Linked DNA regions of Homo sapiens. The protein of the gene in region 1 interacts with the protein of each later gene in a pairwise test. Each region holds a gene or a part of one and is shown in the gene's direction. Other genes may lie near its edges.

The links.
Region 2: the proteins of ASIC4 (region 1) and ATXN3 interact in binary tests that used the Homo sapiens proteins (3 or more experiments, as listed by UniProt).
Region 3: the proteins of ASIC4 (region 1) and OTX2 interact in binary tests that used the Homo sapiens proteins (3 or more experiments, as listed by UniProt).
Region 4: the proteins of ASIC4 (region 1) and DNM2 interact in binary tests that used the Homo sapiens proteins (3 or more experiments, as listed by UniProt).
Region 5: the proteins of ASIC4 (region 1) and DNALI1 interact in binary tests that used the Homo sapiens proteins (3 or more experiments, as listed by UniProt).
Region 6: the proteins of ASIC4 (region 1) and KIF1B interact in binary tests that used the Homo sapiens proteins (3 or more experiments, as listed by UniProt).
Region 7: the proteins of ASIC4 (region 1) and PHYH interact in binary tests that used the Homo sapiens proteins (3 or more experiments, as listed by UniProt).

What each region holds. Positions count from the first base shown.
Region 1 is NC_000002.12:219,513,225-219,517,481, forward strand, and holds the start of ASIC4 (acid-sensing ion channel 4), read left to right. Parts: upstream 1-1,500; coding exon 1,501-2,082; intron 2,083-3,471; exon of another isoform or gene 3,472-3,862; intron 3,863-3,980; exon of another isoform or gene 3,981-4,044; intron 4,045-4,257. UniProt on the Homo sapiens protein: Does not exhibit measurable stand-alone pH-gated sodium channel activity but may form pH-gated heterotrimeric sodium channels. Its activity could also depend on alternative gating mechanisms.
Region 2 is NC_000014.9:92,082,583-92,086,082, reverse strand, and holds part of ATXN3 (ataxin-3 reference isoform), read left to right. Parts: intron 1-2,579; exon of another isoform or gene 2,580-2,670; intron 2,671-2,824; coding exon 2,825-2,957; intron 2,958-3,500. UniProt on the Homo sapiens protein: Deubiquitinating enzyme involved in protein homeostasis maintenance, transcription, cytoskeleton regulation, myogenesis and degradation of misfolded chaperone substrates.
Region 3 is NC_000014.9:56,803,980-56,807,479, reverse strand, and holds part of OTX2 (homeobox protein OTX2), read left to right. Parts: intron 1-1,812; exon of another isoform or gene 1,813-1,904; 5' UTR 1,905-2,023; coding exon 2,024-2,120; intron 2,121-3,116; coding exon 3,117-3,292; intron 3,293-3,500. UniProt on the Homo sapiens protein: Transcription factor probably involved in the development of the brain and the sense organs. Can bind to the bicoid/BCD target sequence (BTS): 5'-TCTAATCCC-3'.
Region 4 is NC_000019.10:10,773,579-10,777,078, forward strand, and holds part of DNM2 (dynamin-2), read left to right. Parts: intron 1-2,124; coding exon 2,125-2,328; intron 2,329-3,500. UniProt on the Homo sapiens protein: Catalyzes the hydrolysis of GTP and utilizes this energy to mediate vesicle scission at plasma membrane during endocytosis and filament remodeling at many actin structures during organization of the actin cytoskeleton.
Region 5 is NC_000001.11:37,563,440-37,566,939, forward strand, and holds the end of DNALI1 (axonemal dynein light intermediate polypeptide 1), read left to right. Parts: intron 1-1,586; coding exon 1,587-1,622; 3' UTR 1,623-3,415; downstream 3,416-3,500. Other genes in the region: GNL2 (nucleolar GTP-binding protein 2), read right to left, coding at 3,416-3,500. UniProt on the Homo sapiens protein: Involved in sperm flagellum assembly.
Region 6 is NC_000001.11:10,294,070-10,297,569, forward strand, and holds part of KIF1B (kinesin-like protein KIF1B), read left to right. Parts: intron 1-1,016; coding exon 1,017-1,096; intron 1,097-1,590; coding exon 1,591-1,697; intron 1,698-2,512; coding exon 2,513-2,596; intron 2,597-2,827; coding exon 2,828-3,008; intron 3,009-3,104; coding exon 3,105-3,177; intron 3,178-3,500. UniProt on the Homo sapiens protein: Has a plus-end-directed microtubule motor activity and functions as a motor for transport of vesicles and organelles along microtubules.
Region 7 is NC_000010.11:13,283,065-13,286,564, reverse strand, and holds part of PHYH (phytanoyl-CoA dioxygenase, peroxisomal isoform a precursor), read left to right. Parts: intron 1-2,725; coding exon 2,726-2,875; intron 2,876-3,500. UniProt on the Homo sapiens protein: Catalyzes the 2-hydroxylation of not only racemic phytanoyl-CoA and the isomers of 3-methylhexadecanoyl-CoA, but also a variety of other mono-branched 3-methylacyl-CoA esters (with a chain length of at least seven carbon atoms) and straight-chain acyl-CoA esters (with a chain length longer than four carbon atoms).

The sequences.
Region 1 (4,257 bases):
ATTAATCAGCCCCCCTTTCCTCCCGGGGACAAGGGCTTCCTCCCCCGTGAGGGCACATGCTGTCGGATGGGGCCCCAGAGCACAAGCACTGATTCTTGCCACCCCCACCCTGGGGGCATGGATGCATCCCCTCCTGGCCAGTCAACTGAGGCTCCCACCCCCACCTATGATGATGGCCCACATGCCTGTTCCCCTCCACGAGAACACAGCAGACCCCTTAGGGCTCTCCTGCCCCACTCTGCCAGGCACCCCTCAAACCCCTTTCTTTAGGAGAGCATTCGCTCCCATTGACGCCCAGCACATCTTCCTGCTCCCTTCCACGCCCCCACTGGGGCTCTTCCTCTCCCTCCATTGCATGCCCTGTCCCCCTACATATAGAGCACCCCGGAAGCACACCTCCCCTTTGCTCCCTGGCTTGCTTACCCAACAGCCCTCCCCCGAAGCCTGGTTGTGGCAAGGGATTTGGGGAACATTTGGGGAAGCAAAGTGGCCACAGATATGCAAGCTGGCCAGGGTGCTGTCTGTCCCAGACATATGAATGACTGAGATTGGGGTTGGGGGCAAAATGAGGGTGAGGGCAGCCAGCCTCCCAGAGGGGGCAGGGGCATGGTGGGTGTTGAAGTCTGGAGCAAAGCTCCAGGGAAGCTGAGAATCTTGAAGTCACAGTTGTCCCCTGGTCTGTCTAGCCTGCCCTCCTCTGCCCCCCTCCCTCCGTCATTCAAACAAGTGGCTCTCTCAAGGAGTTTCTGGAAGCTGCTGTGAGTCGGGTAGTGGGATCAGGTGGTGGCTGGGTGCTGGAGTCAGGAGTCTCAGAGGCCAGGAGGTGGGGGGATAGAGTTGGCTGACCCTTCATGGGGTGTGGGCCAGGAAAGTGGCAAAGAATGAGCTGAGGACCCTGGGCACGGCACCCTTCCCTGGGTGGCCAGGAAGTGGGGAGATCTGGGGACCCAGTGAGCGGCTAGGGTGCAGCAGGAGTTTGGGGGATAGCCCCAGTCTTGGGATCTCTGTCCTGGGCTGGGGACTGCCCCCTCCCCTGGCCTGGCTCCTGACGCCCGTGCTGCCGGTGAAACGCTGTTGACATGTCCTGAATTATTAAGCGTGGGGAGGGCTCCGGAGCACATGCTGAGCGGAGCGGCTGGGGCTGCGCGGCGTGGCGGAGCAGCGCTCGCTCCCTCGCTCACTCGCTCGCTCGCAGGGACACACGCAGGGGCTGACAGCTGTGCTGGTGCTGATAAGGGAAGCCACAAGGAGACGATCGAGGAGAGAGACAAGCGGCAGCAGAGGCAGCAGCGGCAGAGGCAGCACCAGGGCTGCGGAGCTGCTGGGAGTGGGAGTGACTCCCCCACCTCGGGCCCCCACCCTGTCCCTGTCCTCTTCCCGCTTGCCCTGAGTTTAGAAGAGCAGCCGCTGCCACCACTGCCACTCGGGAGGGCACCAGGGCTGCTGGCTAGGGAGGGACAGGGCAGGGAGGCTCTGGCCAGTCCCAGCAGCCGGGGACAGATGCCGATCGAGATTGTGTGCAAAATCAAATTTGCTGAGGAGGATGCGAAACCCAAGGAGAAGGAGGCAGGGGATGAGCAGAGCCTCCTCGGGGCTGTTGCCCCTGGAGCAGCCCCCCGAGACCTGGCCACCTTTGCCAGCACCAGCACCCTGCATGGACTGGGCCGGGCCTGTGGCCCAGGCCCCCACGGACTGCGCAGAACCCTGTGGGCACTGGCCCTACTCACCTCGCTGGCTGCCTTCCTGTACCAGGCGGCTGGCCTGGCCCGGGGCTACCTGACCCGGCCTCACCTGGTGGCAATGGACCCCGCTGCCCCAGCCCCAGTGGCGGGCTTCCCGGCTGTCACCCTCTGCAATATCAACCGCTTCCGGCATTCGGCACTCAGCGATGCCGACATCTTCCACCTGGCCAATCTGACAGGGCTGCCCCCCAAAGACCGGGATGGGCACCGTGCGGCTGGCCTGCGCTACCCAGAGCCTGACATGGTAGACATCCTCAACCGCACTGGCCACCAGCTCGCCGACATGCTTAAGAGCTGCAACTTCAGTGGGCATCACTGCTCCGCCAGCAACTTCTCTGTGGTGAGTTCTGCCAGCTGGGCTGCCTGGCCTTGGATGGCCGGAGGCTGGGGAGTGGGGAGGAGTGGTGGCAGTGGTGTACAGGGGCATCCTCAACAGGGCTTCCCTTCATTCCACCACCAGAGGCTGGCCTCGTGTTTCCCCAAGCCTGGCGTCTCCCTCTGGCTTCCCAGCCATGGAGCAGTGGCCGCTCATAGGGGCTTACCCTGGGGCGCCTGCTGCTCCTCTTCTTGGTTTTGCTGCTGCTGCAGTGCCCAGGTCTGGGAGTTGGGGTGGGGGTTCCTAGGCATGGGCCCAGGTGTCCTGGAGCTGGCTGGCTTGCAGGGAACGCACGCACCATCCCAAGGCCAGACCAACTGACTCTCACTTTTCTCTTGCTCCCTTTTTCTTCTGAGGCTACTGGATTCTTCCCACCAAACGAAGGAGATAGGGAGGGGAGGTTTGGGGGGCTCCATCTAGGGAAGGACCCCGGGTGGCCTCCTGGGGAGCTGGCCTGGTGGGCAGGCTGGAGAGACCCGGTCTTCAGGACACTGGGTGCCAGTGTCTCTTCTGGATCTCTGTGTGTCTCTCACATGCCTGCCTCACAGACTCCCTCACACATCCCTCTTTCATTCTGCCCTCCAGCCCTCCTGGGGTCCAGTCCCCCTCTGTCTCCTGTTCTAGCGGCTCCCATGCCCAGCTCTGGCTCTTACACTGGGAATCACTGGTTCACTCTTATGTGCATAACTCACCCTCACTGCTGCCCCAGCACGGGTGCATGCACACATGCACACGCACACACGCACACGCACTGCTGGGGGACACAGTTTCCTGCACACTCCCTCTCTCACTCACTGTCCCTGTCACTACACTCACATGCACACCTGCACACCCACACCCAGAGAGCTACTCATCTCCATGTCTAGCTCCCAGCTCTCGCTTAGCTGCCAAGGACAGGGTCCCACTGTGGATGCCATCCCTTCTCATGACACCCCCACCCCCATCTATCCCAACCGCTGCTCCCCATTTGGAGACTGCTGGCGCCATCTGTCACCTACGTGTGAGCACAAACACAAGCACCCTCTCCGGGAGAGGGGTGTGAGCTTGGGCTGCTCTGCCATGCACGCCTCCCACAGTCAGGTATGTGAGGGGGTGGGCGTGTCTTGTACACTGCCTGTCTGTCAGGGCTCCATTCACCCATAGTCACAGGGTATCTAGTATTCATGGCGCTCGAGATGCTTGTCCCTAGTCCACAGTTTGCTCCCAGCATTGTGTGTGCATGCGTGTATGTTTCATCCTCGTTGCCACTGCCCAGTGCATATGCAAATGTTTGGCGTCAACATGGTGCCCACTCCAGCCCAGCCTCCAGCAGCCAGCCCCAGTGATAGGGACCCCCGCCAGGTTCTCACTCACCCGCTGCCTCAGGATCACCAGGAAACATGCTCCAGCCAACGAGGTTCCTGGCCCCCACCATGCCTGCAGTGTCTGGGGCCTCCCGCCATTGGGCAGGGGAGTTAGGTAGAAATAGAGGGACAGGAGCAGGAGCATTGTGCAGGGAGAAGAGTCGGGGGCATTGGCCTGTTGTCCGGCTGTACACCCCCTTTCCTAGGGAAAAGCACTGCTCCCCAAAGCAAGGGTTGGTAGAGTCCCCGAGGAGGAGGTGGGATATGGAGGGTGAGTGTGGCCTTTGGGATCCATAGGGCTCTGCTGTCCTCAATCCTCACCACTCCGTATTGGGAGCTGGGCAGAGCTCAGTCTTAGCAGGTGCTGTTGGGACAGAAATCAATGGGATCTTTGTGTCCCCGAGCGGGAGTTGGGGGTGGGCAGGAAAGGGGAAGGGTGATGAGACCTCAGTGAGAGGAAAGGAGAGGAAGAGCTGGAGGGGGTGAGGAAGTAAGGGGAGGGAGGCAGAGGGTTCTGCTTGGTCTCCAGGCTAGGAGGCGGTGCCTGGAGGATACAGGAACGGGGATCCTCTGATCAAGGCTGGTGAGTCCCCGGAATCCTGGGGATGGCCTGGAGGAGTGTGGGTGGATTTCCCACAGGCCCTCTGGTACCCTGGGGCTGGAGAAAGGAGGATGGTAGAAGTCCGTGGGCTGAGGTTCTGGCCCTGGTGCAGGACAGTGGGGGTAGAGGGCATAGCTAGCATTGGGGGACAGGAATTCCCCTTTGGGATTTCCATTTCCCCTGTCTCCAGCCCAG
Region 2 (3,500 bases), on another chromosome or scaffold:
CATGCTTATTGCTGCTGGGTTTGTTATGTAGTTATTGTGAATTCACATTTAGGAATATAGGGTTTTTAATTCTTTGATTTTAGATACTTGTATCTTTTTTCTTTTATATTTAAAACCTTGGTTCCTGATGATATCCCTTCTTAGAAACCCTGTCTACCTTTGGCCTTCAGCCCACCATGCTGTGGTTTTCCTAACTTGCTGCCTGCACTTTTCAGATTCCTTTCATGGATCTTAAATATCATCTGTAAATAAGATCTATGTGTCAATAATTACCAAACTTTTATCTTTAGTCTTGACATCTACCCTGAACACCTAGCTTTGACTAACTCCTAGCTTTGGCATCTCCACTTGGAAATCCAAAAAGTGTTTCAAACTGAACATGTCTATGAAAGACTTATTTTTTTCTCTCTATCCATGCTATCCATCAGGTTTTCCATTTCCATAAGGGTGACTCTTGTACTCTGGTTCCTATATATTATACCGACAGAGCAGCCCAGAGTGCTTCTTAACCAGTGTAAGGCCTGTTATGTCCCACCCTCACTCTTTGTCCTTCAGTGGCTTCCCAGCACACTTAGAATAAAATCTGAAGTCTTAGGCCGGGCTTGGTGGCTCATGCCTGCAATCCCAGCACTTTGGGAGGATGAGGGGGCAGATCACTTGAGGTCAGGAGTTGATGAGACCAGCCTGGCCAACATGGTGAAACCCTGTCTCTACCAAAAAATACAAAAATTAACTGGGTGTGGTGTTGTGCACCTGTAGTCCCAGCTACTCGGGAGGCTGAGATAGGAGAATCACTTGAACCCGGGAGGCAGAGGTTACAGCGAGCCAAGATCATACCACTGCACTCCAGCCTGGGTGACAGAACGAGACTCTCAAAAAAAAATTAAAAAAAAAAAATATGTGAAGTCTTGAATAAAACCCAAGATCTTTACCATGGCCCCTGAACAGGGCAGAGTATCCATTCTTCAGACACTCTTCATAGAATACCATGGTGAGCTGGCATATTTATTATACAATACAGAAACAATTTTACTGGCAGAAAACACATTAAACCGTCTAAACTCTGAATACAGTTGTCCTCATAAAAAATGTTCAACATACTATTTTGAGGTTTTCCATTAATAGTTCTTATAATCTTTGTCCCATTATGTGTTAATCCAACAAAGGATATCCAATAACAAACACCAAAGTTTAAGAAAAATGTGCTAGGCGCGGTGGCTCACACCTGTAATCCCAGCACTTTGGGAGGCCGAGGTGGGCAGATCACCTGAGGTCAGGAGTTCGAGACCAGCCCAGCCAACATGGTGAAACCCTGCCTCTCCTAAAAATACAAACATTAACTGGGTGTGGTGGTGGGTGCCTGTAATCCCAGCTACTCAGGAGGCTGAGGCAGGAGAATCGCTTGAACCTCCTGGGAGGCAGAGGTTGCAGTGAGCTAATATTGCACCACTGCACTCCAGCCTGGGTGACAGAGTGAGACTCCATCTCAAATTAAAAAAAAAAAAAAATTAATGATAGAGAAACTTAAATCAGTTAGATTGTTTTAGGTATAGCCCATCCTTGGTTTTTGTGTGTAGCATCTAGCTTGGGGAAACCCTGGATTTCTGGAATCATATTTAGACACAGTCACACTAGACTAATGTAATTCTTTTGGGATGCAAACCACACGTTTGACACCTTAAATAGCTTTTAGGTATTTGGCTTCCCAGCCCCTATTTTTAGTTACAAGGGGTGTACATGTGTGGGTCAGGGTGGGGGTAGCTCTTTCCGCAGATGATTAGTTTTAGCCATGTTACTAGTTATTGCACACATTATCTGTGTCCTCACAGCAGCCCTGTGAGTAAGTGTATTAGGGTTCTCTAGAGGGACAGAACTAATAAGGTAGATGTATATATGAAGGGTAATGTATTAAGGAGTATCGACTCGTATGATCACAAGGTGAAGTCCCACAATAGGCTCTCTGCAGGCTGAGGAACCAGGAAGCCAGTCCAAGTCCCAAAACCTCAAAAGTAGGGAAGCTGACAGTGCAGCCTTCAGTCTGTGGCAAAAGGCCTGAGAGCCCCTGGCAAACCACTGGTGTAAGTTCAAGAGTCCAAAAGATGAAGAACTTGGAGTCTGATGTTTGAGGGCAGGAAGCATCCAGCATGGGAGAAAGATGAAGGCTCAGCAAGTCTAGTACTTCCACACTCTTATTTCTGCCTGCTTTATTCTAGCTGAGCTGGCAGCTGATTAGATGGTGACCACCCAGTTTGAGGGTGGGTCTACCTCTCCCAGTTCACTGGCTTAAATGTTAATCTCCTTTGGCAACACCCTCGCAGACACACCCAGAAACAATAATTTGTAGCCTTCAATCCAATCAAGTTGATAATATTAACCATCACAGGAAGGTACTAGTATCATATGTTTAACAGTAGAAACCAAGACAAATGCAGCTAGGAAGTGGGAGAACTGGGATCAGATGCAGGCAGTCTGATTCTAAATCAGTTGCTGTTACCCACTCTGACAACAGTAAGTGAGTAGCCTGCTCAGTCAAGTACTATATTAGTAGGGCCCTTTACAGACATATTTATTTCTCACAGTCACTCAATGAGACGGCTCTTCCAGTCTTACAATGGAGAAAGTGAGGCTCAGAGACTTTAAGTAACTTACCTTAGACGACTTTACTAGTAAGTATAAGAATCATTATTTGGACTAAAGTCTTTCTGAATCCTCAGCTTGTATTTTTTTCCAGTGTTCTGTGCTGCCTTTTTATCTACTAGTGTTTTACATCAATTTTGAATCTCTTTACTAACTGGTTAGGTTGATTTTTGCCTTTTTTTTTTAGGTTATTCTATATTTGTCGTTAAGGGTGATCTGCCAGATTGCGAAGCTGACCAACTCCTGCAGATGATTAGGGTCCAACAGATGCATCGACCAAAACTTATTGGAGAAGAATTAGCACAACTAAAAGAGCAAAGGTAAAAATGAGGCCTGCAGTATGGAATATATGGTAGTATTTCATTATGAGAATTAAATTTTCATGCTTAGATTGAATATGTGGTCCTTGTGTTGTTGGCGACTCTATTTTGGACCTTATATTTTAGTGAAGTTTATTAGTTTAAACTTGAATCAACTCTTTGAAATACTTAAATATATTAACTTAGTTAGCTGGTATGGTATATTCCTAGCACTTCGGGAGGCTGAGGCAGGCTGATTGCTTCAACCCAGGAGTTCGAGACCAGCCTGGGCAACATGGCAAAACCTCATCTCTACAAATAGTACAAAAATTAGCCAGATGTGGTGGTGTATGCCTATAGTCCCAGCTACTTGGGAGGCAGAGGAAGAAGGATCACCTGAAACTGGGGAGGTAGAGACTACAGTGAGCCATAATCACACTACCGCACTCCAGCCTGGTCGAGAGAGTCAGACCCTGTCTCAAAAAAAAAAAAAAAAAGAAACGGAAAAAAAAAACTTAGTTGGATTCAAATTGCAACACAATCATTATATTACTAGAGCTTATT
Region 3 (3,500 bases), on another chromosome or scaffold:
AGAGCTCTACATGTAAGAACATTTCCATATTTCTCAAGGGTACATCTGATATGATTTTACGATTCTCTATAGCACTGTAGTTCAGAATTTTGCAAGGTAGTACGATTAAACAAAAAATCTCCAATCTCCAGTTTAGAGGCTGTTTAAACACATATACAACTGTATTTTAAAGCTGTCGCATATGTGTTTAAACAGCCTCTAAGCTGGAGATTTTTGTTTATTTTCGCAGCCTCCAAAGAACAGCATTTTGAAAAGAAAAGACAATACAAAAACATAAAGTCTGTATTGTAGGGGCAACTAAATTAGTTGTACTGAGGATAATACAAACTCCTCCAAGAAAGACATTTATAAAATTATATTAAGTTAGATCTTAGGGTAGAAAAGCATGACTTTTGTGCTCTGAATTTAAATCAGAAAGAAGTTGCAGTTACTAAGTTTCATTTATGGACTTTTGTGCCTTGCTGTCTTAAGCAACGTAAATATGAAAACCCGGAGTCCTTTAAAGTCAGTGAGACCTTTATCTTGTATCCGCCATTTTGAAGCAATCTCTCATGGTGTCAAAGTTTCAAAGTAGAGATCCTTGCATATAAGTGCCACATTTTAGGAAAATAAAGGCCAGACTTGCAAACTGCCAGTCTATATTAACATCTACTTTGAATCTCTTTGCTGGGGTGGAGGCGGGGAGCTCAGCTGAAGAAAGTAAATAACTTTTCTTTTTCTTCCTTTCTTTTCCCCCTTGAGCTCTTTTTCTTATAGGATTGTAGGAAACTTGAAAGGTAGGGAGAAATTCTACTAGTTTCACAACTTTGGGTGTTTGTGTATCTACTTTCTTCAAAACTAAAATGTGCAAAAGGCAGTTAGAGTTAACAGGAAACTCTGCTGCAGCTGCCGAGGACCCAAATGTCTGAAAATTTGCCTCCCGCAGGATCTGCAGCCTCCACACATCAAAATCAACATGGAAGCAGCTTGCACTACAAATGTGGGGTCCCGTCATTATCTGATTGGTGGGATTCTAACTTTACTTCACAATTTCTGGCAAGCCCTGTGCCAATCTTGAAGACTTTTTTGGAATATGCTTAAATATTTGATGGGTGTCTATTAAAAGTTAAATACTTGTTTGTTTAGCTTTCGTTCCTTAGACACATATAATCAAGATTCTCCAAAACCCTAATAAATCTGTTACTTACCTCGAAATCTAATTACCCAGACTACTAATTAGGTGAAAATGATTACCGGAAATGACTTCAAATGTGGAATAATAGTGGTTGAGCGGTTTTTCCAAGTTTGTGGTTTAGTGAGTTGGTATTTTAGATGTTAAACGCACTGACATTTTAGGTTCGCAGCAGTTGAAAGTGGTAAAAAGCTAAGATAATTAAAATCTCTGCCATGGAAAGGCAACAGTCTGGGGAGAGGTAGATTTCTTGAATTGTTTCTTTGTTTCTCACCAATGGGCTTTGTTATCAGCATTATTTATTTAGCCAAAGAGTTCTTTGTCTCTGCAAATGGCCCCAATCAAGTTTTGTTTGAGACAATTAGCTAGTGCCAGCCAATGAGTCCTATGCAAATGTAGGGATAGGAATGCAATGTGTGCATTTGAAGGCACGGGTTTTTGTTCTTGGGGAAGGCAGATTGTAATTGCTTTCTTCGGGTACTTTTTTTTTTTTTTTAAGTTTAGGGTGGGGGTGGGGAAGACAGGTTTATCTGGTCTCCTTCCATCCCCTCTAGTTCCAGAGCAGCTGGGGGTGGGGGTGGGGATGGGGGTGGGGGGAGTGTCTGCAAGTCCTTTAAAAGCCTCTGCCTCGCCTAGTCCGTGCTCTTTTTAAGTTAGTGCTGGAACGTGGAAGAGCTGCTGCCTCCGAAGCAGTAAACCAGCCCCTCTGTTTGTTTGTTTGCTTTGCCCTTAGTTCCACTGCTCCAAACCCACCCACCAAGGACTCTGAACCTGTCCACCCCGGGCGCATCAAGATCTTCCAGCTGGGTACCCCCGATTTGGGCCGACTTTGCACCTCCAAACAACCTTAGCATGATGTCTTATCTTAAGCAACCGCCTTACGCAGTCAATGGGCTGAGTCTGACCACTTCGGGTATGGACTTGCTGCACCCCTCCGTGGGCTACCCGGGTAAGTGAGCCCTGCTGCACTCCCGCACCCCTCTTCCCCATGCCCACCCTCCGGGGATGCAACACCCTGTTCCCATGGAACACGGGGGTTGGCAGTCACACTGTCCCCACCCAGCTTCAGGCTTGGTCTCCTCTAGGTTTGCCTTCTGAGGAAGCAGTCCCAGGGCATTTACTGACCAAGCAGAGAACAGGGGTTGGGAAAAGTGAGTAGGTGGGTCTGCAACCGTTACAATCACATCACTTTATTCTTAATTCGAGTAAATAAGGATTGGCATCAGAGTGGGATGAGGAAGGTTACTGTCCTTGTCATTTGGGCAAAAGACCCCTACCCATATCTCAATGACCAATTCCTCAGAAGTGTCCTCTTGGAGAAGCTGAGTTTTCCCTCCGTAAGTCCTTAGCACTCTCGGGCTTCGCAGTTGTTCCCTCCATGCCCAGGCCTTCCCCTATGACCTCCAGAGCCTGCTTTAATCCCAAGAGGCGTGACTTCCTCCAAATGCGGGTGCTTTCCTTTCCAATCAGATATGTTTAAAAATCCTCCCAGGAGTATGAACTATGTCCCCATTTTAAAGATGGAGGAACAAAGGCCCATGGTGTGCTAAAAACCATGGGAACAGGATCCAGATTTCCCCCATCAATTCGAGCTGCCAGTCTGTCCTCGGAGATCCTTTGACTTCTTGGAATAGCCTTTTTGTGTTGTGGTTTGGGGGTTGATCTTGGAGAACTTTTTTGTGTGTCTTTTAAAAAATGTTTCATTTGTTAACTTTCCAAGTGATGCTCTGATTGGAGCAATCTCAACACCAAGAAGAGTAGGGAAAGAAGCAGCGTGTGTCCTGGGTCCCCGGGGAGCAAGGCTGGGGAGACGGTGGGGAGAGCATTGGTAGGCTCCCGGCTGAAGGGCTGTGAGGAACGGGGGACTGCTGCGGGGTGGAGGGCAGGGGCGTCGGAGAACCCGCGGAAACGCCTATGACTGAGAAACTGCTCCCCCACCCTAAAGGGCCCTGGGCTTCTTGTCCCGCAGCCACCCCCCGGAAACAGCGCCGGGAGAGGACGACGTTCACTCGGGCGCAGCTAGATGTGCTGGAAGCACTGTTTGCCAAGACCCGGTACCCAGACATCTTCATGCGAGAGGAGGTGGCACTGAAAATCAACTTGCCCGAGTCGAGGGTGCAGGTAGGGCAGATGCAGGCAGAACCATCCTTCCTGATCATGCCACCCTTCCCGAGTATGGGACTGTGGAGAGCCCCAGGTCTTTCAGAGGACTGAAGGAAGGCTTGAAATTCTCCTTCACTCACTAAGGGGCCAGGAAACTATTCTCCTTCTGCCCTTTTTTGCCTGCCCGTCACCACTTAATCCCGTAAGCAAGGGTCTTCAAGGCCCG
Region 4 (3,500 bases), on another chromosome or scaffold:
GCTGGGATTACAGGTGTGTACCACCCTGCCTGGCTAATTTTTTTTTTATTTTTTATTTTTTTTATTTTTAGTAGAGACGGGGTTTCACCATGTTGCACAGGCTGGTCTCGAACTCCTGAGCTCAGGCAATCCACCCACCTCAGACTCCCAAAGTGCTAGGATTACAGGCGTGAGCCACCACGCCCAGCCCATTCAGCTACTTTTTTGTATTTTTAGTAGAGATGGGGTTTCACCATGTTGGCCAGGCTGGTCTCGAACTCCTAACCTCAGGTGATCGCCTGCATCCCCCTCCCAAAGTGCTGGGATTACAGGTTTTAGCCACCTTGCCCAGCCAAATATCCTGATTTTAAAACTCTGCATTCAAACAGCAGCCCGGGGCCATAGACATCCTCTGGCCCAGAGGCACAGATTGCTACCATGATGGGTTCCTTGCGATAAGTTTTAAATTTGTTTTTCAATAAATGACACCTGCATGTGGCTCAGAATTCAAAAATTACAGAAAGGTATATCGCAAAAACCTACCTTGTCAACCAGTTTTGCACACATATTTTAGGTTCTTCAGATGACAATGCAAACATGAGCTGGGTGTGGTTTCACACACCTGTCATTCAAGCTGCCTGAAAGGCTGAGTCAGGAGGGTCACTTGGGCCCAGGAAGTCGAGGTTGCAGTGAGCTATGATCACATCTGTGAATAGCTACTGCACTTCACCTGGGTAACATAGCAAGACCCTCTATCTTAAAAAAAATGTGTAAGCAAAAAACATGTAAGCAATTGTGATTGTATCTATGTATATGTTGTGTATGTGTTTATCACTCCTTTTCCTTAAATTGTTAGCATAACATAAAAATCACTTATGCTTTTTTTGAGATGGAGTTTCACTCTTATTGCCCAGGCTGGAGTGCAATGGTGCAATCTTGGCTTACCGCAACCTCCACCTCCCGGGTTCAAGTGATTCTCCTGCCTCAGCCCCCTGAGTAGCTGGGATTACAGGCATGCGCCACCTCACCCGGCTAATTTTGTATTTTTAGTAGAGACGGGGTTTGTCCGTGTTGGTCAGGCTGGTCTCGAACTCCCGACCTCAGGTGATCGCCTGCCTTGGCCTCCCAAAGTGCTGGCATTACAGGTGTGAGCCACTGCGTTGGCCTATGCTTTTTTTTTTTTTTTGTATGCCTCTCAGAATGTTTCTTTATTATATATTTATTTTTTTTTTTTTTTGAGACAGGGTTTAACACTGTTGGCCAAGCTGGAGTACAGTGGTGAGATCTTGGCTCACTTCTTCTCCTGGGCTCAGGCGATCCTCCCGCCTTAGTCTCCTGAGTAGTTAGGACAACAGATGCACACCATCATGCCAGGCTAATTTTTTATATTTTTGGTAGAGGTAGGGTTTCGCCATCTTGCCCAGGCTGGTTTCGAACTCCTGAGCTCAAGTGATCTACCCATCATGGCCTCCCAAAGTGCTGGGATGACAGGCATGAGTCACCGCGCCTGGCCTCATCCATTTGTCTTTTGTTTTTGTTTTTTTGAGACAGTCTTGCTCTGTCGCCCAGGCTGGAGTGCAGTGGTATGATCTCAGCTCACTGCAACCTCCACCTTCTGGGTTCAAGTGTTTCTCATGCCTCAGCCTCCAGAGTAGCTGGGAGTACAAGTGTGTGCTACCACGCCCAGCTAATTTTTGTATACTTAGTACAGATGGGGTTTTGCCATGTTGGCTAGGCTGGTCTAGAACTCCTGGCCTCAAGTGATCCACCCACCTCGGCCTCCCAAAGTGCTGGGATTGCAGATGTGAGCCACCGCACCCAGCCTCATCTGTTTGTCTGTAATGGTTCTTTGGTATTGGCTGAATGGATGGGCTGAAATTTATTCAGTCATTTAGGTCTATTCCAGTCTGAACTGTCCTGATTTAGAACTGTGCCATTGAAATGGAGTAGGTAGAAGGTATCTGTAGGATGGGATCCTAGAAGGGGAGTTACTGGATCAAAGGTGTGGTTCAGGCAGAGTGTCAGGCGACATCCTCAAGTCTGAGCCCCGCGCAGGAACTTTGGTAGTCAGCTGGGTGGCTGCGGGCCTGTTTGTGCCTCCCCTCTCCTGGCTCTGAATGCCTTTCCTTCTGGTTTCCCTCCCAGTGTTGAACTTGACCCTCATCGACCTCCCGGGTATCACCAAGGTGCCTGTGGGCGACCAGCCTCCAGACATCGAGTACCAGATCAAGGACATGATCCTGCAGTTCATCAGCCGGGAGAGCAGCCTCATTCTGGCTGTCACGCCCGCCAACATGGACCTGGCCAACTCCGACGCCCTCAAGCTGGCCAAGGAAGTCGATCCCCAAGGTAACCCTGAGCCTAGGGCAGTCCCCTCTTCCAGGTGCCTCTGAGCATGGGATGTGCCCAGCATCCTTGGTTCCAAGTCACTGGCGTTCTCTTTAATCCATGGCCGCTGTAGGAAAAGGCCTCCTGGAACATGGCACTTCCTCCGAGAACCAGCAGTGCTGGTGGGCATCCCCTGGGAAGTCACTGTGTGGCAGTTGGACGGTCCTCCTTGGACATGGCAGTGCCCATGTTGCCAGAGTGGGAAGCTAGCCTAGGGCTGAAGGAAGGGCCCAGCGCTCCATCGCCCAGATGCGATCTTAGGTCCCATCTAGCTGTTACTCTGCTCCCTGAGACATGGTCCCCTCTTAGTCAGAACGGGAACTTCAGTCCTAACCCAGATAGCTGATGTGAGGACTGTTGAACTTTTGGGTTGTTTCTGATCTTTGCATGGTGAGATCGTCTATTTCCCTTCGAGTTGACACCCCTGGGCCCCTCTAGTCAGATCCTTCTACTGAACCCTCACTGCAGAATGTGAGCAGGAAGGGGCCCCAGGGAGGGCACAGCTGTGGCCCCCTTGATGCCCAAATTGGCACCCACCAGAGATCTTCACTCTGGCTTCCATCTGTCCCCAGTGTCTCATGCACATGCCACACATATAACACACACGGTTAGCACAGAGCCAGGCCCTCAGCCCCCGTGGGAGCAGTTGATCTGCAGAGGTGAGACTTTGCTAGAAAGACATCCTTGACTCTGGAATGACTTGTGGAGAGGTGGAATTGGATGGGATGGTTTCCAGAGTGGAATTTTAGCCATTCAGGCAAGAGGTAGTCCTGGAAACAGTCGTGTCAAACTCAAATGTTCCCTTGGGACTTTGCCGGCACTTGGAAAGTCCAGCATCAAAATCTGGCCCAGGAATCATGTTTACGTGAGGTTTCCCAAAGCCTGCAGCAGCAGAGGTTGTCCTTAATAACACAAATGACAATAACGGCCAGCATTTGTTGAGTATTTGCCGTGTGCCAGGCTCACCCTTATGACCACCCTGTGAGATCAGGGCTGTGACCATCTTCATTCGACATGTCGGAAACTGGGGTCCAGGCCTGTGACGTTCTGGCTTTCCCAGGTGATGTGACCTGGAAGTTTCAGGGCCAACTGGACCCCAGGTGGCTTGCAGCTGCCAGCTGATGCTCTTTCCT
Region 5 (3,500 bases), on another chromosome or scaffold:
AAGCAATCTTGTAATCTCCAGGGTGAAAGATTCTTTAGAAGTTGGCATTTTTAAATTTTTTTTCTTTTGAGACGGAGTTTTGCTCTTGTTGCCCAGGCTGGAGTGCAATGGCACCATCTCAACTCATTGCAACCTCTACCTCCCGGGTTGAAGTGATTCTCTTGCCTCAGCCTCCTGAGTAGCTGGGATTACAGGCATGTGCCAGCACGCCCGGCAAATTTCTGTATTTTGAATAGAGATGGGGTTTCACCATGTTGGCCAGGCTGGTCATGAACTCCTGACCTCACATGATCTGCCCACCTTGGCCTCCCAAAGTGCTGGAATTACAGGCTTGTAATACAGGAAGTGAGCTATTTTTATTGGCTCAAAACTGCATTGCAAATAAAGCAGCTTTGCTGTCCCCAGGATAGACCTACCTAAAGATCTGTCCAGTATTATTTTATTGGCTACCAGAGGAACATAGTAAATAACTCCCAAGTGTCTTAAGCTTTACATAAAGAGGGACAGCTCTCGGCTGGGTGTGGTAGCTCACACCTGTAATCCCAGCACTTTGGGAGGCCGAGGCAGGTGGATCACATGAGGTCAGGAGTTTGAGACCAGCCTGGCCAACGTGGTGAAACCCATTTCTACTAAAAATACAAAAAGTAGCTGGGCGTGGTGATGTGCATCTGTAATCCAAGCTACTCAGGAGGCTGAGGCAGGAGAATCACTTGAACCCGGGAGGTAGAGGTTGCAGTGAACCGATATCACACCATCACACTCCAGCCTGGGTGACAAGAGCAAAACTCCATTCCCCACCCCCACCCCCCAACAAAGAGGGACAGCTCTGTATTCACTGGCAGCATTTCTCTAATTGTGTGCCAAGTTGTCTCAGTGGCTGAAAATTCACTGTTTCCCAAACCTCTGGTCCCAGCAGAACTCCCAGGATCCTAAACCAGAGAGCCAATATTTTTTTTTTTTTGAGACGGAGTCTCCCTCTGTCACCCAGGCTGGAGTGCAGTGGCACGATCTTGGCTCACTGCAAGCCCCGCCTCCCAGGTTCATGCTATTCTCCTGCCTCAGCCTCTGGAGTAGCTGGGACTACAGACGCCTGCCACCACGCCCAACTAATTTTTGTATTTTTAGTAGAGACGGGGTTTCACCGTGTTATCCAGGATGGTCTGGATCTCCTGACCTCACGATCCGCCCGCCTCAGCCTCCCAAAGTGCTGGGATTACAGGAATGAGCCACTGCGCCCGGCCAGAGAGCCAAATGTTTAACTTAGCAGACATATTCTGGCCTGAAACCTGAGCCATGAAAAGCCCTTACAACAATGCATTCAATATCCTTTTCAATGCTTTATATCATACCCGGAGCCATTATTGTGTTGAAACCAGGACAGCTCTGGCTTCTCCTCATATACTAAAGACTGTATGCCAAGCTAGAAACTAGCTAATCTAGAAAATATGGATTTGGGGATCAAGGGGAAAAAGAACCCTTGGAGTGACAGCATGTGGATTCTTCTTCCCAGAGATTTGATCACCTCTCAGCTATTTGTATCAGGCTGCAAGTTTCAAGTATTAATGGAGCTTGTTTTTGTTTTTCAGGCCCAACTGGAAGGCATTATTGCACCAAAGAAGTGATAATTTCCACATGATTAATTTCCAACAAGACACTTGGGAGTTATTTACTGTGTTCCTCTGGCAGCCAATAAAATCATCATAAGCCCTTTGTAATAAAAAGCTAGTTTCCTGAGTGAACAAGCCATAACCTCCCCTAAACACCACCTAGGTATTTGTTAGAAGTCACACTATTACTCCAATGTCATCAGACACCTAAGGTCTGCCAGCCAGGCTCCTGGCTGGGCAATGGAAGATGGTGTGGCCCTGTTAGTCTCCGTGTGTGGCTTACTAGCCAGCCTTGGGAACTGCCAACTCAAATTCTAAGAAAGCCACTGCTTTCTCATCATCACTCTATACCAATACTTATTTCTGGCCAAATGAATCTGCTTCTCTGCCCCTCAAACTTTTAGTTCACAATTCATCTTCTACCTTAACTTGGGCTTCTTGGGCCTCTGGCCTTCCTTACTTAATGTCTTCTTTTCCCTACTCTAATGCATTTCTAACTCACTTTGGAGCTTTGGTTTTCTAATGTATTATCCCCACTTGCCAGTCAACTGGACCCCTTCCTCCTCGGTTTCAGACTGCCTACATTAGGAAACAATGGCAGTCAAACCCATGGCTTTGGAGAAAGTAAATGTTTGCCAGAAAGGAATACTAGTCACAGTGGCCTTTGTGAGTTGTCTGCAACTCAGCTCTTCCCCCAGCACAGATCTGTTCCCCTTATCCTGCAGAAAATCAAGCCCTGACTCTGCACTCCCCGAAGTAGTGATGTTAATTAACAACTGAAGAGGTAACTAAATCTCACATGCAGGTCTAATGACTAATAATTGGAGTACGGCTGCTAGACAACTGCATTTTAGTATTTCTCTTCCATTCTCCTGGTTTTGTAGACCCAGAAGATTGAATGAGTGACATAAATCTTTAGTTCGGGGCAAGCCAGGGTGGGCTAGGGTGGTAAGCTGGAGGACTTCATCCTTCAGTTAGGCTGCACAAGTAACATTACCTAAAAGGCACTAACATGCTCAGGTTCCCCAGAAAGAGGCGTAAGAAGGGCCTCTCCTTAGCAGAGCTTCCACCTGCCATCCGTCTTGGGTTCAGTGAGCTTCAAGGCTCACAATGGAAGCACTGTCATTTCCCCAGAAAAGCTGTGTTCCCTATGCTGAACACACCATACACATTCTCATCTGGAATCTAAGGAGCAGCTTTTACCCTGATCCAGTATCCTGAGGAATTTTAAGCCTCCACTCAAATGACCTGCCTGTGTTGTCATTTCCATGGGAAAGAACTCTTTCCACGAGATCTGCTAGTTCCAGGCCTCTAAGACAGGAACGTATGTGCCATAAGTGGGTCTACTTCACAGACTCAATGAGGCAGAAATTATTGTAGTTTTCTCCTATTTCTTCTGCACCCAACTTTCTCCTTGTATTTCAAAGGCCAGGCCATGTACACTAACGTCCTTGAAATTTGCAGTTCTGTATGCTTCTATTCCAAATCATTCATTACCAATAAAAACGAAATACCACCCTTTCCATTTTATAGACCTCATCCCCTATTTCTGTCAGACAGTTATATGACAGGGTGACTGTGGAACCTCTTAGTTCATCCAAAGTCTACCTGAAGTGCTAGACTTTCAGACTCTTATCACTGAAATCCTTAAGGTTGAGGAGGCTTTATTTCCCTAGCACTGGTGAAGGGCTTCAACTGTCAAACCTCAGAACAAATGCATTAGGGCCTTAGAAATGTCAATGGGGCAGGAAGAAAACACAATTTCTAACTGCCTGTTTTTGTATAATTTAATAAAAACCTTTTAAACATTACTGCTTTTGTCTGAATTTTTTGCGTTTGTGTTTCTGTCCCTCTGAGTCATTGGTCTTCTTTTTGTTCCTGTTCCTATTTTTC
Region 6 (3,500 bases), on another chromosome or scaffold:
ATCTTTTATAGTTCCTTTTCCTACCCCCTCATCTGACTCTTCTTTCATTCTTCCACATTTGCTGGCACTCTCTTGAGTAGATTTTGGCCTCAAGACCATGTGACTTATTTTTGGATTCCAGTGGGTTATTTTCACTAAAGAAGGTTGGTTTTTTAAAAAGATTTTAGAAATATTAGAGTTAGATGAAGAGGATTGTTAGAAGATGTTTATCTTATCGAATATCAGTAATTTTACTTTTTTCTTTAAGGTAAAGACTAATAAATTAAAATCTTTTAAGGTAAAGACAAATTAATAACTGGGATCAGAAGAACTGATAAAAATTATAGTGGGAAGTGGTGGGGGGGTATGGGGACATTTTAATAAAAGTAAATATTTCTTGAGATTTTTACCCAGGCATTTACAAAAATTATAATTATTCCGTTCAGAGAATTGGCCTGTCATTTTTTCCTTGTGCTTTGACCTTATCAAAAATTAGGTCTTGTTTTTTTATCCCAGAACTCATGTTTTAAAATGGAATGCCAGGCACAGTGGCTCACTCCTATAGTCCCAACACTTTGGGAGGCCAAGGAGGGTGGGTCAGTTGAGGTCAGTAGTTCGAGACCAGCCTGGCCAACATGGTGAAACCCTGCCTCCACTAAAAATAGAAAAATTAGCCAGGCGTGGTGGCGAACACCTGTAATCCCAGCTACTTGAGAGGCTGAGGCAGGAGAATCACTTGAACCTGGAAGGCAGAGGTTGCAGTGAGTCAAAATCATGCCGCTGTACTCTAGACAGAGCGAGACTCTGTCTCAAATTAATTAATTAATTAAAATAAAATAGAATGCACTTGGTTCCGTTTGGTGAGGCCTGAAGAGAGTGTTTTCTCTTTATTATGGAACCGCAACTAGGGATAAAAAGAAATCCCTCTCTAGGCTCTGTGGAGAGTTGGAGAAGCCTGGCCTCTTGTAGGCCCCTGTTGTTACCACAGCTCTCTCATGGTGCCCTGCTCCAAATTGATCATCTGTAATCTTTTTCAGACCCCACATCTTGTTAACCTCAATGAAGACCCACTAATGTCTGAGTGCCTACTTTATTACATCAAAGATGGAATTACAAGGTATATTTATTTCCTGTTTTGGTCACTTCGTGTGTTTTCCCCCTCTTAGATAATTGAATAACTAAAGGGAAGGGGTTGAAAAAATTAACGTAATGATTTGCTGTATTTTTTGTCTGAAATAGTTACAAACTATGCTCTCTTTCCAAATAATGTGTTTTTGCCACTGGAGCCAGTTACTATGTAGTTTTTCTCTGAAGACCCTAAATAATTTTTTTTTCCTTTAACAAATATACATTCCTTAGGGATTTTATTTGACTCATGTCTTTATAATACTGTATGAGTTACATTGGTATATCAGTGCTCCTTGTTTCTTATTCTGATGTAGAGAGGTTGATCATATGTGAGGATAGAATTCATAGTTGAAAGCTTCTGATGCAACAAGGCAATACCTTTTTTGTACGTACCAAAGGATATTCTTTGGAATAAAGAGGTTCATTGTTTGTAGTGCTTTCTGTGTCTGAATTTCCCTGGGAAACACTTTCTCTTGTGTTCAGGGTTGGCCAAGCAGATGCTGAGCGGCGCCAGGACATAGTGCTGAGCGGGGCTCACATTAAAGAAGAGCATTGTATCTTCCGGAGTGAGAGAAGCAACAGCGGGGAAGGTGAGCATTCCTGGCTGGAGCTTCAGCAACAACATTTTCATTTTATATTATGAGAAATCCTTAAGACTTTGTATTCTCTGTCTATCAGTAGTACTTTCTTATACAATCTAATTCTGAAAAATGGAGAGACCTGGGCTGCTTATGAATGCAGAGATGGACAAGGCTGCTTTACATGAAAATAGCTTGGACAAAAGAAGCCCTTTTTTACTGCCAAGAACTGAGAAGGACATAGGCAATTAGGCTTGGTCTGGAATGTTAATTATTTAATAGAAAAGTAAGAAAATAGCAGATATCCTGGGTAATAGGAGATTTGAAGGACATTAAGTCAACCCAGCAGAATTTATTTTTATCTAAAAGGGAAGAAAAAGTCAGTCTTGATTTTTGCCTGGGTTATTAACAAAACAACAATTTAATGGTTTTTTTCTGTTATATAAGTCACTCATTCCCTTATCAAAATATTAGCTTCTCAGTCTTTAGTTTCTGGTTATTACCTATATCTCATCCTTACAATTTCTGATGGTTCTGAGTTTTATTGACTGAACCGTCAGAGATCCCTGAAACTAATATTTCCTATCATCTTCTTAGGTTTATCAAATAGAGTTAAATGTTCTTGTGTTAGCCATGGCCACAGATAGCCTCTTCTATTGGGGCTAGTTCTGGTACCCCAAAATGAACTACTGTATAGACAACTTCAGCCACTTGATTGATTGCAGGGATTTATTCTACTTACTGCAAATCCTGATAAGCAACTGCTTTCCATTATTTGATTCCAATAGTTTGTAATGATAACATTAGTTTGTGTTTGTTCCTCTTAGTTATCGTGACCTTAGAGCCCTGTGAGCGCTCAGAAACCTACGTAAATGGCAAGAGGGTGTCCCAGCCTGTTCAGCTGCGCTCAGGTGAGACTGGGAGAGGTTTGCCATCTTCAGCAATGTGCACATGGCTTCTGTGACAACTCTAATTTTTGGCTGTTTAAAGGCTGAAGTAATAGTCAGCATTAGGATTTTTGTTCTTGTAAAAACAACAGCTCTGAAAGCTGTCTTTTCACATTAGGGAGGGGTGAGGTTGTTAAATAGATACTATATATTAAAAAAATTATTTCTTAACCCTATTTTTCTGTTTTGTGCTAGGAAACCGTATCATCATGGGTAAAAACCATGTTTTCCGCTTTAACCACCCGGAACAAGCACGAGCTGAGCGAGAGAAGACTCCTTCTGCTGAGACCCCCTCTGAGCCTGTGGACTGGACATTTGCCCAGAGGGAGCTTCTGGAAAAACAAGGAATTGATATGAAACAAGAGATGGAGAAAAGGTAATGCACAGTTACGCAGCCCATATGACTGTTTCTTCTTTTAAACATGTAATACTAATAGCATTCTTGAATTTTTTTTTTTTTTTTTACTTCTAGGCTACAGGAAATGGAGATCTTATACAAAAAGGAGAAGGAAGAAGCAGATCTTCTTTTGGAGCAGCAGAGACTGGTAGGAGTCCTGAATCTGCTAAACTGTTGGGAAAAGGGCAGCTTGTTCCCATACTTTCCCTGTTCCACAGAGCAGTACTCACCCAAATTGCTTCTGTCTCAATGATACCAAGCACTATTCTTTAATTTCCTTAATGGAGAATGAACTTAAATCTCCCGGTAGCCTTAGCCTGAAAAAATAGTCCACAGAGGTACTCTTTTGGGCTTTTTATGTCTTAAAGCCAAATCTTAACTTCTGTTACAACCAAATACTTTTTAAGGAAATAGAGCTTTTCTGGTAGCCTTTGCCTCTTGATAGTGGTTTTGGAATTTGCTTCAGTGGTG
Region 7 (3,500 bases), on another chromosome or scaffold:
CATGCTCAGCTAATTTTTATATTTTTAGTAGAGACGAGTTTTCACTATGTTGGCCAGGATGGTCTCGATCTCCTGACTTCGTGATCTGCCTGCCTCGGCCTCCCAAAGTGCTGGGCTCACCGCGCCTGGCCAACAGTAGTTCTTTCCCTTCCCTTGCTGAGTAGTATTCCATTGCATGGCTGCACCGTGAACCATGGTTTGTTCATCCATTCAGCTGCTGATGCTTGGAAATGTTAAATGCATTTGAGCTCATGAGTGATGGGATCAAATCGGCTCTTCAAGGACAGTAATGTCACGTTCTGGTGCAGGACGCGTTAGAGGTATAGGCATCTAGAAGCAAAGAAACCAGAGAGATGACTATTAACGCGTTAGGTCTAAGGTGAAAAGACCCTGTGGGAGCCAAAGTGGGAGGATCGCTTGAGCCCAGGAGTTCAGGACCAGCCTGGGCAACACGGTGAGGTCTCATTTCTAAAAATAATAATAATAATAATTAGCTGGGCATGGTGGCGCATGCATGTAGTCCCAGCTATTCCAGAGGCTGAGGCAGGAGGATTACTTGAGCCCAGGAATTCGAGGCTGCAGTGGGCTATGTTGGTGCCACTGCACTCCAGCCTGGGTGACAGAGCAAGTTCCCGTATCAAAAGAAAAAGAAAAGATCCTGGGCTGGGCGCAGTGGCTCATGCCTGTAATCCTAGCACTTAGGGAGGCTGAGGTGGGCGGATCACTTGAGGTCAGGAGTTCGAGACCAGCCTGACCAACATGGAGCAACCCTGTCTCTACTAAAAATACAAAATCAGCCTGGTGTGGTGGCGTGCGCCTGTAGTCCCAGCTACTCAGGAGGCTGAGGCAGGAGAATAGCTTGAACCCAGGAGGTGGAGTTTGCAGTGAGCTGAGATCGCGCCACTGCATTCCAGCCTGGGCAACAAAGCAAGACTCCATCTCAAAAAAAAAAAAAAAAGAAAAGAAAAGATCCTGGAATCCCATGATGCTGCGAATGGAAAGAGCCCCCATTGTTAAAGCAGGGAGAATGAGTTGTAGTTCGATAGGAAATGAGGAACATGGTTTTAGGAACTCCTAACTCGTCTGGACACAGTGGCTCACGCCTATAATCTTAACACTTTGGGAGGCCGTGGCGGGTGGATCACTTGAGGTCAGGAGTTTGAGACCAGCATGGCCAAGATAGTGAAGCCCTATTTCTACTAAAAATACAAAAATTAGCCAGGCATGGTGGTGTGTGCCTGTACTCCCAGCTATTCGGGAGGCTGAGGTAGGAGAATTGCCTGAACCTGGGAGATGGAGGTTGCAGTGAGCTGAGATCGCACCACTGCACTCCAGCCTGGGCGACAGAGCAAGACTCCATCTCAGTAATAACAATAATAATAATAATAGAACGTCTCAGATTTCTTGCACCAATAATTAGTGTCAAATGAAAATATGTGAGTGTCTGGATCCTGATATAAAACCATTTAATGTGAAACTCATCAGTGAAGCCAAGGTTTAAAGTTTGGTGCATGCAACTGCAGTGGGCTTTGGCTGACAGAAGGCAAAGGGAAAAGTTTGCAGGGCTTCCAGAGCGTGTGGAGTCTCAGATACCCTGCTCAGATGCAGAGTGGGAGGTATGATTAGCTTAGTGTGGGTCACACATTCACCCTGGCCAGGAGAGAAGGGCTCTGGGTCAGAGTCTCAGCACTGTCTAAGAGGGATGTCGTCATTCCCAGAAGGAACTGGGGATGCTCTTAGGAAGAGGAATGGGCTGCTTCCCTTACCCTGACTCCTAAGGTGCTTCTCATGTCAATTTCTTTAATAAAGACATAACCGCATTACCTAAAGTAGCAACTAATTTGGGAAATAGTTACAAACAAACACAGTGTTTTAATTTACTATTCTTTCATTATTCTGGATGTAACATAAGTGCCTTTGAGCTCAGAAAAATTGAGCATTTTCTCCCCCCTATTTTGGGGAAATAGCTTCTCAGAGACACTCCTGAGTAAGAGATGAAGGATTTATTTAAAGTTCTGGGCGAGGAGGAGAACACACTGGGAACACTCACAGTTTCAGGCTGGAAATGCCCAAGAGATAGGTGGTTGCCTGCATTAACCACAAAAGGCAAAGCTAAGCTAGATCTTCATGTATAATGCAGTCATGAAGGGCAGGTGGAAATTCCACACTGTTCATTTCCTCCAAAAAATCAGTGATTTTAATATCAACATGTGACTTCTTTTTTTTTATTACCATTATTTTTCGAGACAGAGTCTTGCTCTGTTGTCCAGGCTGGAGGGCAGTGGTGTGATCATGGCTCACTGGAACCTCCCCCTCCCGGCTCAATCGATCCTCCCACCTCAGCCTCCTGAGTAGCTGGGACCACAGGCTGGCACCACCACGCCCAGCTAATTTTTGCAGTTTTTGTAGAGATGGGGTTTTGCCATGTTGCCCAGGCTGATCTCAAACTCCTGAGCATAAGCAATTCTCCCAACTTGGCCTCCCAAAGAGATGGGATTACAGGCATGAACCACCATGCCCGGCCAAAATGTGACTCTTAAAAACCAGATATCTGAGAGGCTTTTGTATACTGAAAAAAATGTAAGCATTTAATTTAGACATTTATTTCTCTTGGGAGAGAGAAATGCTTTCTTTCCCTGATGTTTGCTTTCCCTGATGAACCATTGACAATGTTTTTAATTATGGTACTCCCTCAAATGTAGACTTCACTTGCCTCTTGTTCTAGGGGGGAGTTAACAAAATGTTCCACGGGATCCAGGACTACGAGGAAAACAAGGCCCGGGTGCACCTGGTGATGGAGAAGGGCGACACTGTTTTCTTCCATCCTTTGCTCATCCACGGATCTGGTCAGAATAAAACCCAGGGATTCCGGAAGGTAAGCATTCACATTGCTGCACCTGCTGCAGAAGTGTGGGTTAGAAACAAAAATTGTATTCAATTCATTGAATTCAAATTAATTGAATAAAATTTTAATTAAATTGCATTAACATTTTAAAGATTTGTGGCTTTTAACCAACCTGGACTTTAGTCCAGTTTATTTACCAGGAAATATATTTGCTTACCTTGGGCTTTCTGTGCTCTTATCAGTAAGAAGCCAGGTGACCTCAGGATCCTAACCTTGTCAATATTGATTATGGGCCGGGCGCGGTGGCTCATGCCTATAATCCCAGCACTTTGGGAGGCCAAGGCGGGTGGATCACGAGGTCAGGAGATCGAGACTATCCTGGCTAACACAGTGAAACCCCATCTCTACTAAAAATACAAAAAATTAGCTGGGCGAGGTGGCGGGCGCCTGTAGTCCCAGCTACTCGGGAGGCTGAGGCAGGAGAATGGCGTGAACCCCAGGGGGTGGAGTCTGCAGTGAGCCGAGATCGCGCCACTGCACTCCAGCCTGGGCGACAGCGAGACTCCGTCTCAAAAAAAAAAAAAAAAATTGATTATGAAAGCCAGGTGCAGTGGCTCATGCCTGTAATTCCAGCACTTCCGGAGGCTGAGGCGGG